4 separate regions of the Homo sapiens genome follow, and all the other regions are reported to be linked to region 4. The links are microRNA targets in miRTarBase. Many come from high-throughput screens and were not tested one by one. Region 4 holds a microRNA gene; each other region holds the end of a gene's coding sequence.
Evidence for each region. The annotated mature microRNA hsa-miR-539-5p reads GGAGAAAUUAUCCUUGGUGUGU and lies in region 4 at 1,742-1,763, shown strand. An mRNA with a match to its seed (bases 2 to 7 or 8) in the 3' UTR can be bound and repressed. Matches are read on the target gene's strand: a 7mer-m8 pairs with bases 2 to 8, a 7mer-A1 pairs with bases 2 to 7 and ends in A, and an 8mer does both.

Region 1 (3,109 bases), not on the chromosome of region 4:
TTGAGGGGAAGAGTTCTACATTCAGTTATTTTAGTTTAATATTACTAAGAACTTCATTGGAACCCAGAACAATCTTCCCTGCCGAAAGAGCTTTGTGCCCATTCTCTGTGAATGCTCTTTAGGAGAGATGCTTAAGGATTCTCTCCACACCTCCCCATGTGTCCTTACTCAAGACCAGAAACTCTCAAGGTGAGAAGGTAGATGAGAATGACCTTCAGTAATACCCTCTTTCCCGGTCCCCCAGTTCCCTCGAGCAGGGGCAGCAGACCCCACTGTGACCCACGGACCAAAGCCAGCCCACTGCCTTGTTTTTGTATGTAGTCAAAATGTACAAAAACAAGCCCTGCTCATTTGGTTAGGTGGCATCCATGGCTGTTTCACACAACAACAGCAAAGTCGAGTAGTTGCGACAGAAACCATATGCCCTGAAAAGCTGAAAATATTTACTATCTGGCCTTTACAGAAAAATTGTGCCGACCCCTGCCCTGGAAGAGCACAGTACCTCCATGCATTGGTGTGGCGAAGACGACTGGGGATTGCCGCTCTAAAACATGTTTGGATTAGGAAGCACGTTTAAGTAGGAGAAGCCTTCGTGACTTCTCTCTAGTGCCTTCGTGCCCTGTGTTGCCCACTGAATTGCCCTGTAACACCTAAGTGTAGTGGTAGCATTAAGGGATAGCTTTTCAGCCCTCAAGGTTATCAGGAGCATTTGTATCACTGCTATAAATAAAGTAGTATCACTTGTCATAATCAGGGTGCTGAAACATAATGAAAAGGTTTAACTTAGTCACAGTAAATATTTTATATCCCTGAAAATAAGTTATTTAATGAGAATAGAACTATTTAATGATCCATGAGTCCTAAAAGGATATCTGCCTTGTATTGCCAAGTTTAAGGCAAAGGTGAGATCCTGTATTAATAAGAAGACAGCTTTTTTGTTTGACATTGGTAAGTACCAAGAATTCTAACTCACATATAGTAGGAAACAACAAAAAGTCTCCACTGACTTCTTTGAATTAGATACTGAGAATCCACAATACAGTAGTGTGGATAACTTTCAAGAAGCCATTGGAAACATCTCCACATTCTGGGATGACTTGTAAATGTCTACAGAGTAATGGAAGGAAAGGCTTCCTTGTCTGCTCATTGCTGCCACCTGGGTTGGGAAAATAATTGAAGATGTTTTCTCAAGTCCTTCAAGAATCTCTTCTTAATGTTCAGAATAGTTTAAGAGCGTTGTTGAGGTAAACTGATAGCTGATTATTTTCTGAGATTTAGATCTAAACAAACTCAGCATGACGAGGAAGCACACTTCACAGCTCCAGGGTGCAATACTGATGTAAAGTTGCCTCGTGAGGATACATTTTTCGCTCATGTATGCAAAATTCCTATCAGTTCATTTGCACAGCCAGTTCCAATCATGTATGTGATCACCAGATTAAAAGCTTCATCCAGAAAGACAAGACTCCTCAGAACGAATAGTAGACAAGTAAGACTGCTACCCACAGAAGCCAGTACGCTTCAGGTGTGAGGCGGGGTAACTACTCATCTCTTCACAGAGCCAAGGAAAGAAAAAGAACGTCTCTAACATGATTTACCATTTTAAACAGCCTTATAAGTTTTGTCTCTTAAAATCATGCTGCAGAAGGAGGGGGTAAAAGTCGTGTTCTGCCCTGTCTGTGGCATTGGAGTGCCCCGCTAGGTAAGAAGCAACGCTTAGATCTTGCTTCCAGGCAGCAGCTTGAATTCCCGAATCTTCCTGCAAGGTGCATACAAATGCAGCGTGAGAATCCATACACGTAATCCATATTCACCTTCCCATCCATCCCGCAGAAGAGGCATGGTGACACCCAGGCTACTGTCCATGCTTGAGAGGACGTATTTGAAGGTTCTGTTACTACAAGTTGGGAATATTCACGGACATGCCTGAATACCCCGGCTGTAACTCACACGTGGTCTGTGTAAGTGGATTAACCTCGGGGCGGCCTTGTTTAATCCTGAATAATATCTGAAAGACTGAGTTTACTTGGGAATGTGTAGTTTTTCTAATGCACATTAAAATTTATTTTAGCTGTTAAAAATAAAATCATTTTATTATCAGCAGACTCTTTTATACTTTATGGGGCATCTACATACTACTTCCGCCACTCTTCATAATAAAATTATTTGTAAAATATAAAAAGTACTCCCCTGAGCTGATTATATGCCTCTTCTAGAGCCTCACCTGTGAAATGGGTGGGTGTGTCCCTGGGTAAGTTACCCAGTTTACTGGAGCCTCCTTTGTACTGTAATTTAGGGATAATTATTCCTACTTTGCAGACATTTGGTGAGATTAGAAGTCTTACATGTGTTAATTCCAGCAACGTCTGTGATGGTAGGAACTCATTGACAGCAGCTGTTCTAAAGCCTGTAGTATGTGCCATCATACTATATATAAATTCCAACCTTGAACGGAGGAAGAGAGGCCCTACTGCAATCCACAGGCAGATCCAGCCAACATCTGGGGCTTGCTTTGTGCCGAGTGCCATGCAAGGTTTTTTACATGTGTTTTCTCCTTTTAGTTTCAAACAGTCCTGTGGCGTAGGTGCTATCCTGCTCATTTTCCAAAAAGAAAACGGGCTTGAGGTAGAGTGATTTGCCTACGTAGCTCTGTGCTGTTCATCACATAGCAGCCCCCATTGGTTTGAACTGGCATTCAACCCCCCAAAACCCGACTCCTGGGCTCCATTCTTTTAGACTGCCCTGACTGGGGACTCCAGCTCCAGGCAGGCCAGGCACCTGTCTTTTTACCAAGGTGGGGGGCCAGTTCTTCCTCACACATCCCATTGCTCTTCTCCATTATTCCAAAAGGCTCAGCACAGCCACTACCCCCCCTTTCCCAGTGGATTAAGTTGCTTGGTATTGGCCTTTCATGATGGCATTAAAAGATGGTAATACCGTTAAATTTTTGTGTTACTACCTTACCTCCCCAGGATAAGCCTATTTTATTCCATCTACTGCCCCATAATACTCCACACATAAGGTACAGAGTATATTCTTAGATTTAAATAAGCCATACAGGGAAGCAGCTGTCATGCTAAAGAAAGCCATTTGAGTTAATTGCCAGTTG
Region 2 (3,109 bases), not on the chromosome of region 4:
TTCTAGAAAACAAGGTGTTCACAGAGATGGTAAGCACAAAGAAATGGAAGGAACTCCTCTTCCAACTCCCTGCCTCGCACTTCTCTACCAATCACCTTGAATGACTGGAGATTATTCTGCCCCATCTGCACCATGGCCTGATTTGACCCGGCTTCTGGGGAAGTGCCTGCAAACAGGCCTGGTGTGAAGGGCAGCCTCTGGCCAGGGAAAGGCCTTCCTCAGGACCAGTACCAGCTCCTGTTTGCAGATGGTCCAAAATCACTGACTGAGAAGGGGCTGTGTACCTTGCCAAGAAAGTGGACTAATATTTTTGGGAAGTTTTAATTTGCTTCAATTAAAAATTGAGGGCAGTTCTGAGCAAAACAGAAGTAGGTGAATTTATTTTCTGGGCCTCTGCACAGATCTTTCTGGGCCCTCAGCCTCTGCAGCTGTTTCCAAGAGGCCTCTACCCCAGCCAGCATTTCCCAACTAGCCGGTTCCATGACTCCTACCATTCCCCCCCTACTCTCCCGCCAAAGCAGGCCAGACCTGCCAGGGAGAAACTAATCTTAGAAATCATCTTTTTTCTTTCTTTGAGACGGAGTCTTGCTCTGTCGCCCAGGCTGGAGTGCAGTGGCACCATCTTGGCTCACTGCAAGCTCCGCCTCCCGGGTTCACATCATTCTCCTGCCTTAGCCTCCAGAGTAGCTGGGACTACAGGCGCCCACCTCCACCACTAATTTTTTGTATTTTTAGTAAAGACAGGGTTTCACTATGTTAGCCAGGAAGGTCTCCATCTCCTGACCTCGTGATCCGCCCGCCTCAGCCTCCCAAAGTGTTGGGATTACAGGCGTGAGCCAGTGCACCCGGCCAATCTTTTTTCTAAATGGAAGTGAATGGCTTAATTACCCTTTTCTGGGGAAAATTGTGTACATGCACTGAGATTTTAAGCAGATACACAAAAATTGGGTAAGAATGCTTGAATCTAGAGTTAGGGGGTCAGGCATATGAGAGCAACTCACTCTACATTCTTAAGTACAGTATACATTTTTTTCCTGTATACATTCTTTTAAATACATTTTAAATAATTTTAAATAAATGTAAAAGTACAGGATTTTCAATGACCCTTTTTCATTTTTAAAAAGTTCGCCCCATGGATTTAGAGATGTAGTGGGCTGGTTAGGCCAGGCAACCCTTCCCACATCCTTTCCAGGTAGAAGGCCCCAGTGACACAGCCCCAGTACTGCTGTTCCCACCAAGCAGTCGGGTCACAAAGTGGTCAAGGCCATAGACCTGACACAAAAAGTGAGCTGGATTAATCATTCTGCCTCACTTCAGAATCGGAACCAAGAACCAGAGCCTCTCTGCACAACTGTGTGGCTGTAATGATCTCCATTGTGTTCATTCTTGGGTACAAGAAACAGATCTCAGCCCAGCTCAAGTTGGAGTCGGGGTTTGTTTAGTTGGGACTCTTGGTGGCTCATACTTGCTTCGAATTAGCTTAAGCCATAGAAACAGGGAGGGGAGGGCTTCTTTTTTAGATCATGTTACCTAAAGTCACAGGGGTTTCTGTCTTCGGGCACAACTAGACCCAGGGGCTTCAAAGATATCCCCAGAGTCTGGCCCTGCTCTCTCCATCTGGGCCATCTTCCTCTCTCTCATGGTTCCACTTTAGGAAAGCGCCTCCCCACAGCCAGCAGCTCCAGGCTTATCCTCACAGCAACCCTGAGAGGAAACTTGCCTCCTTCTTGGTTGCTCTAGTCAAATGCCTGCGCTGGGGCTTCATAAGCCAAACGAATTCACATGAGGATTCCTGAACCAATCACTGGGGCCAGACTTGGAGACAAGAGGTGAGGGAGTGGGGCTGACCATCCAGGCCTCCAGGCTGAGTGAGGCGGTGCTGAGAAGGCAATGGCAGGAAGCACCAGAGGTCACCACTCAACTCCACACACCCTCTCCCCAGACACCCTCTGCGATGGCCTGAAGTCCTCACTACTTTCCATGTAAAGTTCAAGAGAGCAGGACCGTATCTGGCCCAGCTACTTGTTTGGCAGCAATTCCATGCCGGGCCACATGACAAGTCACTGCCAGCTTGGGGCTGTGTGCCTGTGGGTCAGGAGCTCTACTTGATCTCCCATGCTGGGACCACAGTTGGGTTGGAGATGGGGTCTCATGGCACAAACAAGGCTGCTTGGAGCTGCCCATTCAGGAAAGGTGATGGGTGGGATAGCTTCTGTCAGAAGAGGTTAGGGGAACTGCAGGCCTTATGAGTGACTCTAAGTACCACACATGACCTATGAGTTGGAAACAACTTTATTGATACCTGAGAAAAAGTGCAGGAAAAATATTCCTCCTGACCAGGTGGCCTGTCCCCTGAGGCCAGATCATTCTCTCGCCTCTCCCTTAAGCCCTGGGTCATTTGGGACCTCACTGGCCAGCACCCAGAGGCTGAAGACATCCACAGCCAGAGCCTGGAAGCCAGACCCAGAGACCAGGAGAGGGAATGTCTACAGCGTGGCTCCTGAGGTCAGGGCCAAGGTCAGCGTGGGACCCTCATCGGTCAAGGGCCAGCGCCTCTTGGATCACTGTCCGGAGTCCGATGGAAAACAGCTCCTCCCATGGTTCCCGGATCCAGGCAAGCAGGGCTGTCAGCTGCTCCTGACACACCACACGGAGTGCCCAAAAGCTCTCCAGCCGGGACACCTGGCAGACCGAGCAGTTAGCAAGGCGAGGCTCATGGGGACCACACCAGGGTGGGTACAAGGGAGGTCTCTGCGAAGGCCTCACTGTCTCCACCTTGGCTCAGTGCCTCTCCCCTTCCCCAGGCCCATGTCACTCCCCATAAAAGATCCTGACTCTGAGCTTTGTAAACAGAATCCAGCCGACGTTTACTGAAAGCCTCCAGAGGACCTGTCTTTTTCATCTTCCCTGTTGTACAGAAGATGCGGGCTCAATTTCAGGGAACTGTGGATTCAATTCCCGGCTCCACCACTTTGGACTGGGCAAACTGGTTAACATCCCCAAGCCTCAGCTTCCTCACCTGTAAATAGGACCAGTAACCGTATCTCCTCAGGTGGTGGTCACAAAGGCCAAACGGCTGGCATACAACCGGCCCAATCCTGCCAACTCA
Region 3 (3,000 bases), not on the chromosome of region 4:
TTTAATGAACTCAAAAACTACTTTGTGGCAGTATGTCAAGTAAGTAAATGAATGTAGAGTTGTAATTACAACGTTGGAGTTTTTTAGACGAACATTATCTCCTCTTTTCTTAACTAGGGAAATATTGAGTATAATTCCTTCTGGGTATTAAGAAAAATTGGTTAAATTTTTTCCTTTTCTTTTTTTAAGGATTTACTTTTCTTAACAAGTGAACAATTTGCTTCTAAGCGTCAATGAAAGGCAACACCTCCCTCTAATGGCCAAAGGAAGAGAGTGGCAGTAAGCTGGCTTTTCCAATGTGTCACACAATCCTTCATGCCATTAAGTTCTCCTTGTTGGAAAAGAAATTAGGTTGTTTTGATAACTTAGAAAAGTTAGTTTTAGACAACAGTGACTTTCAGCTACAAATACAAAATCAAATCCATGTATATAAGGCTTCTGTAATCGATGTCTTAGAGGAACATCTGCTCATTTTCTCCAAGCCCCAGTCCTATAAATCAAGGCAAGTCAAGTAATTAAGCTTCAACTATTTTGGCAGCTTTGCAATTAAAATGAACAAAGCACTATATCTATCCTTCCATATACTGTATATATTATAGTTCTATCTTGTTACACCAAATCTCACATGCAGAGAGACTAAAAATATCCATTTTGGTTTCAGGTATAATTAAAAGCCAATAAGGGTCTTGCATACTATTCTTTTTCCCCTCCCCAAAGTGAATTCTCCATCAGATTTACTACTCCCTGACTCAATTATATTTACCTGGAATATCTGAATGCAGGTATTTATCCTCTCAGAAAAGAATATGTTTACCTGGGATCTAAACATACTGTACACGAATATACATAACTGCAATACAGCACTGCTGTTTTTAACAGCTCCACTTACACCTCATCAGTACCTCACAACCGTGTTTTAGGAAAAAGTTTTGTGTAATGTTATGGTAAAGAGAAGAAAATTATGTCTCTTAAATATTCCTTTAGAACAAATTCAGGCAAGTTTAAAAAATAAATAAAATGAATAAAGCCATGATTTCAACAACAGGGCTGTCTACAAACATCAACAACAAAATTTAAAAATTTTTAAGACTTAAATGTGGCCAGCACCAGACTACTACAACAACAACAAACCAAAAAAAAAAAGGGGGGGGGTGGAAGTCTCATTAAGCTATATAGCTATATGTAGTTGTATTGTACTTTTTTTTTTAAACACAGGTCACCATACACTAATTTTCAAGTCCGTATCAGAAGGAATATCTGTTAAAAACAAAAACAAAAACCATGATTCAACAGAAAATGTGACAGATTCCTTAGGTGCAACTTTAGAAACCTAAGTTTCAAAGGAGAAAAACAGTAGTTACTCCAGGAATTTTAACTCACTAACCACAGTTCTATCATGGCTCTGTAAGACAGAAAAATGGAACAAAATGTATATAGCTGTTGGCGATACGAGCCTTGTGGCTCAAATTGCATACCAAACATGGGATGGAGTAAGGCTGATGGCTAGAGGTAATCACCTCTAAGAGAAATGAACTGGAAATGATTTATAATCTACCCTACAAGGATATAATGCTAGGTTCCATTTCAGAGTAGTCACAGCTTTCCCTATGGAAGGCCCAATGGGAGGTTCATATTGCAACATTACAGTTTCTCCCTTACTCCATTTTTCAGAAGTATTAAGTAAGCAATCTCCACAATGTATTATATGACCTTTTTACCTGGTCCCACTGATTAGTCTTTATGCAGAGAACTCACTGAGAAAGTACACTGGCTTCACCTTTGGTTTAAATAAAAAAGACATTGTTAAGAAGGAAAAAAAATCAAGTCATCTTGATCATTTGTCACTAAATGAAACAAGAGAAAGCAATGAGCAAAGACTGTTTTCACCATAAATGCATTTGCTTCATAACCACTTAGGTCACTTAGAGTGTTTTGTGAAGGCAGCATAATCAGAATGCCACAATACTCGGATGCATCTTCCCAAAAGAGCCTCTAACCCCCAAAACCAAGAAAGGCGAGCTTCCTTTAATTAGAAGGCTATCCAAACTCCTATTCCCCACTCCACTACTAAATGAATTTTGTTTCTTGTCTATCCAGAGACAACAGAAATCTGGTTCGCAGGAATGCTCAGTAATCTTTCCCTGGCCTGAGGTGTTGCAGGGTGGTGCAGTGCTGCATTTGAAGGGGGAACTGTGGATTTCCATTTTTGATGGGACAGTTTTAAACAAGGTCAATTCTAACACAGCATGCTCCAGATTCCTACGATAACTACGCCAGTCAGAACGTGGTTGTTCATCACCATACTTAAAGCCTCCCATTAGAAAGCCTGCTTAGTATTAGGATGTCTATTAACCACACACAGTTTACCTTTTCTTTTTAAATACCTACCAACAGATTGTTTAGCAAGTCATAGCTCATCCTTCTCCATCATTTCAAATGCTTCTATATCTTCATTCCAGTCTGCTAATATGGAGTCTATAGGCTGGACCTTTTTACCCCAGCTAACATTAGGATTGGAATCTTCCTCAGTTTCTGATTGTTCTTGAAGCTGGTTATCTAAATCTGTACATTCACCATTAAGATTTGTAGTCTCATGGTTTTCTGTGGGATTAGAAGTCTGTTCAGAAGGGGAAATGCTTGCAGCATTGTCCATATCTGCTAGAGATAATGATTCTGGGTGAGAATTTAGAGAATTTTCCTCAGAAGACTCTTGATCAACCAAATCAACCTCCTGAGAACTTGATGAAATCTGTTCACCACTCTGATTCTGAGAATCATTTTCAGAGGATGGTTGTTCTTCATTTTCCATTTCAGGATCTGTATGAGAAAGAAACAAACCTCATGCTACTTCTCTAAAAAAATGTACTATTACACTTTCCAAAGCATATTGGTTTTTGCAACAAGATGAAATAAAACGTGAAAGAGACTCATGTTAATGCAGAAAGGTGAGCATCAGCACTGAAATGAAGACTGTCTTTATGCAGTCACATTTTCCTATAG
Region 4 (3,109 bases):
CCACCCCAGGGAATTCCTATAGAAAGTGAGAAGCTGAGCTCTGCGTGTGCCCAGGAAGGCCCGTGGGGTGGATCTCCTTTTCAGGAACAAGTTCTAATCTGGAGTGATGCCTGGAAAAGAGGCTGATTCTGGTGAAGGGGCACTGGCGTCTGCCCCTTCCTGGCCCCTTTGGGATGGAGAGCTGACCTATGGGCACACAGCTGGCAGGTGGTGTTTGCCACCTGGTCTGCTGATCCCGCATCTCCCACCCCCTCCCCCGCCAGGATGAACCCCGGGAGAGGAGGCCGGCCCCGTGAATGATAGTGAGGAACCTGCCCAGTGCTATTGTTTGGTACTTAAAGCGAGGTTGCCCTTTGTATATTCGGTTTATTGACATGGAATATACAAGGGCAAGCTCTCTGTGAGTATCAAACCTTGTCTTGGACCCAGTCCACACTCAGCAAGGGATGCGGTATGTGTGTGCATGACCGTGTGTATCCGTTTTGTGTGTGGCAAATCGTTCACGGGTCCCCACTTCACAGAGAGGACTTCACGGGCACCTGGATGACTTTAGGGAAGGCAGTGGCCTCTGGGACATCCCCTCTCCTGGTGCAGTGTGGGCGGGGCCAAAAGCATGCACGATGTGTGTGGTCTGGGTCCCTGCTTCCTGAGCGGGAAGTCATCAGCCCGGGCCGATGGCTGGGGTGGCGCTCGTGTGGGGTAGTGGCTTTGTGGTCCCTGCTGTTACTCGGTCCGTGAGTGTGCATGTTCTGCTTGGGGTATGTGACCCGGTCCACTAACCCTCAGCATCTAATTCATCCCCAGGACCGCGCCTTGAAGACGTACCAAGTCCACCCAAGGCAGTGGCTTTCTTTTCCGTGCTAACCTTTGGTACTTGGAGAGTGGTTATCCCTGTCCTGTTCGTTTTGCTCATGTCGAATCGTACAGGGTCATCCACTTTTTCAGTATCAAGAGCGCAGACTCTGGAGCTCGATTTCCTGTGTTTGGATCCCACCTCTGACATTTACTAACCGTCCAACCTTGGGCAAGGATCTCATCGTGCTGTGCCCATTGTCTCACATGTCAAAGGGGAATCACATTGGCGTCCATTTCTTGGGGCTGCTGGGGCTGAACGAGTTAAGACTTGTACACGGCTCAGAGCAGAGCCCCGTGGTCGGCACTTCGTAGGTGGTAGCCAGGACCCTTGTGTGCTGTGAAACTATCATTGGTGGTGGTGGTGGTGGTGGTGGTGGTGGTTTTATGACTAAAATCTCTCCATGGGTTTTTGGAACAGTGTCAAAACATGGAAGTCAAGTCCTTCATCGGGTATGGAATGGACTAGGAAGCCCAGAGCATACACGGTGTTTACAATGGGGGCTAGTGATGCTCTTGATGCTTGGCAGCTAAGCCATTCACACAGTGGCTTTTGATACAGAATGCCACATGCAGTGGGGGTCAGCAGGGGTGCCGAGAACATTTGCTCCACTTAAGAGAGACAGTCCCTGGGTTCTTGACCTCGGCCACTATCTACGCTTTGAAGGAGTCTTGAGCGAGGATGCCAAGCTGAGTGAGGATTCTATGGCATCTTGCTTCCCTGGTGCTTAAAGAGAGGTCAAACTTGGTGCATGCATTGTGCATGCCTGTGTGTGCGTGGTGTGTGTGCATGAGCGAGTGTGTGACTGGGTTTGCCACGAAGCAGTCACCATCTAACCTTGAGCCAAAGACCTGGAGGTGGTGGTCCGTGCTGCTGTTTCATACTTGAGGAGAAATTATCCTTGGTGTGTTCGCTTTATTTATGATGAATCATACAAGGACAATTTCTTTTTGAGTATCAAATCTTGCCTCGGCAGACTTCCTGGACGCCATGACAAGTTCTGTAAAGGGATGCACGCATCAGCCCTTCCCAGGGGCTCACGCCTGGGTGGGGATGAGGGCGCATGCAGTTGGTTTGTGGTGGGGACACTTGTGCCCTAACCTCAGAACCCTGGAGGCGGGGCCACGCTTGGCAGGGGGCCACGGGACTCCTTGGTGCTATCAGGGATTTGCATTGGCCATGGGTGTGTGTTGTGGGTGACGCAGCATTCAAGCTACTTATCAAATCCTGCTTCTTGGAGGCACTTCTTGGACATGAAGCAAACCTTAGGGACCGATCATTGGGGCCAGACCCCCTTCCCCTGCCCAAGAGTGTGACTGACCCCCAGGCATGGGCTTGACTCTCAATGTGTGAAGCTGACCTGCTAATCCTCATTGTTTGGACTACCTGAGAAGAACTTTCTGGAAGAGACACCAACTTTGGAGAAGATGCCCAGCTCTTCTTGATGGCACAGTTCTTTGGTGCTTAAAGAATGGCTGTCCGTAGTATGGTCTCTATATTTATGATGATTAATATCGGACAACCATTGTTTTAGTATCCAAATTTGCTTCAGAAGTTTTTGAAAGCACAGTGCTGACTTCAGTGAGGGGACATTGGTGCCTGCCCCACCATGGAGTGTGACTGTGTTGATGATTTATAATGATGAATCCAGTGATCTCAGAATGCAAGCCACCAGTGTGATTTCCTTGGACAAATGCTAGCTTTGGGGTGGAGATGCCATTTAGGGGCTTGGTGCCATATCTTTTTATTGGAAGATGTTCACAATTATTTCATCTCTCTTTCTCTTCTTGTTATTAAATCTTAGCCACGAGGAATTCCTTGGAGAGATGCCGGGGTCAAGCCTCTCTCTAGGTAGATGGTGGACCGGGGAACCTGGGTCCAGCCTCTCCTATCTGTAGCCTTCATTCTGAGTATGAAACACTTCCTGTAGGGAATGCAAACATTAGTAAAAACTCCGTACATTTCCTGTTACTATTACTACTTTTTGGCAGCTCCTAAGCAGCTGCCTGTTGGGTATTTGGATTATTCTTGGTGGACGTGGCATGGCTTCGTGCCTTCCTTGGGAACCACCCCATCTTAGACAGACTCTCATGGAATAAGACGTTGTGGTCGACAGCACCTCTGGGGTGTGTGTGTGTGTGTGTGTGTGTTTGTGTGCGTGTGCATATGAATAGTTGGCTAGAGTAGTGTTTCTCAAACTTTAAAAATGCTCCTAAGATTTTCATCACCTAGGGATCTTGTTAAAAAGCAGATTCT

Region 1: miRTarBase lists MTNAP1 as a target of hsa-miR-539-5p. Seed matches in the 3' UTR shown: 7mer-A1 at 1,184-1,190.
Region 2: the mRNA of STK11IP is a reported target of hsa-miR-539-5p. Seed matches in the 3' UTR shown: 7mer-A1 at 2,304-2,310.
Region 3: miRTarBase lists EDEM3 as a target of hsa-miR-539-5p. Seed matches in the 3' UTR shown: 7mer-A1 at 1,756-1,762 and 7mer-m8 at 1,524-1,530.

What each region holds. Positions count from the first base shown.
Region 1 is chr17:73,246,778-73,249,886 of GRCh38, forward strand. MTNAP1 (mitochondrial nucleoid associated protein 1) reads left to right here. Exons shown (of 6, transcript NM_001351264.2): 6 at 464-2,182. The coding sequence ends at 564. CPSF4L (cleavage and polyadenylation specific factor 4 like) reads right to left here. Exons shown (of 6, transcript NM_001129885.1): 6 at 1,672-1,759. The coding sequence ends at 1,717. Among named protein-coding and RNA genes, the nearest start is that of CPSF4L, 14 kb to the right of the region's middle.
Region 2 is chr2:219,615,617-219,618,725 of GRCh38, reverse strand. STK11IP (serine/threonine kinase 11 interacting protein) reads right to left here. Exons shown (of 25, transcript NM_052902.4): 25 at 2,275-2,682. The coding sequence ends at 2,533. LOC124908064 (a long non-coding RNA gene) reads left to right here. Exons shown (of 2, transcript XR_007088701.1): 2 at 1-363. Among named protein-coding and RNA genes, the nearest start is that of SLC4A3, 10 kb to the left of the region's middle.
Region 3 is chr1:184,691,656-184,694,655 of GRCh38, forward strand. It overlaps EDEM3 (ER degradation enhancing alpha-mannosidase like protein 3), which reads right to left. Exons shown (of 20, transcript NM_025191.4): 20 at 1-2,817. The coding sequence ends at 2,408. Among named protein-coding and RNA genes, the nearest start is that of EDEM3, 62 kb to the right of the region's middle.
Region 4 is chr14:101,045,588-101,048,696 of GRCh38, forward strand. It overlaps MIR539 (microRNA 539), which reads left to right and starts at 1,734; the gene lies at 1,734-1,811. The region is part of intron 1 of MIR381HG (MIR381 host gene); the gene reads left to right. It overlaps MIR381 (microRNA 381), which reads left to right and starts at 333; the gene lies at 333-407. It overlaps MIR487B (microRNA 487b), which reads left to right and starts at 868; the gene lies at 868-951. It also overlaps MIR889 and MIR544A. RefSeq lists enhancers at 178-678, 679-1,179.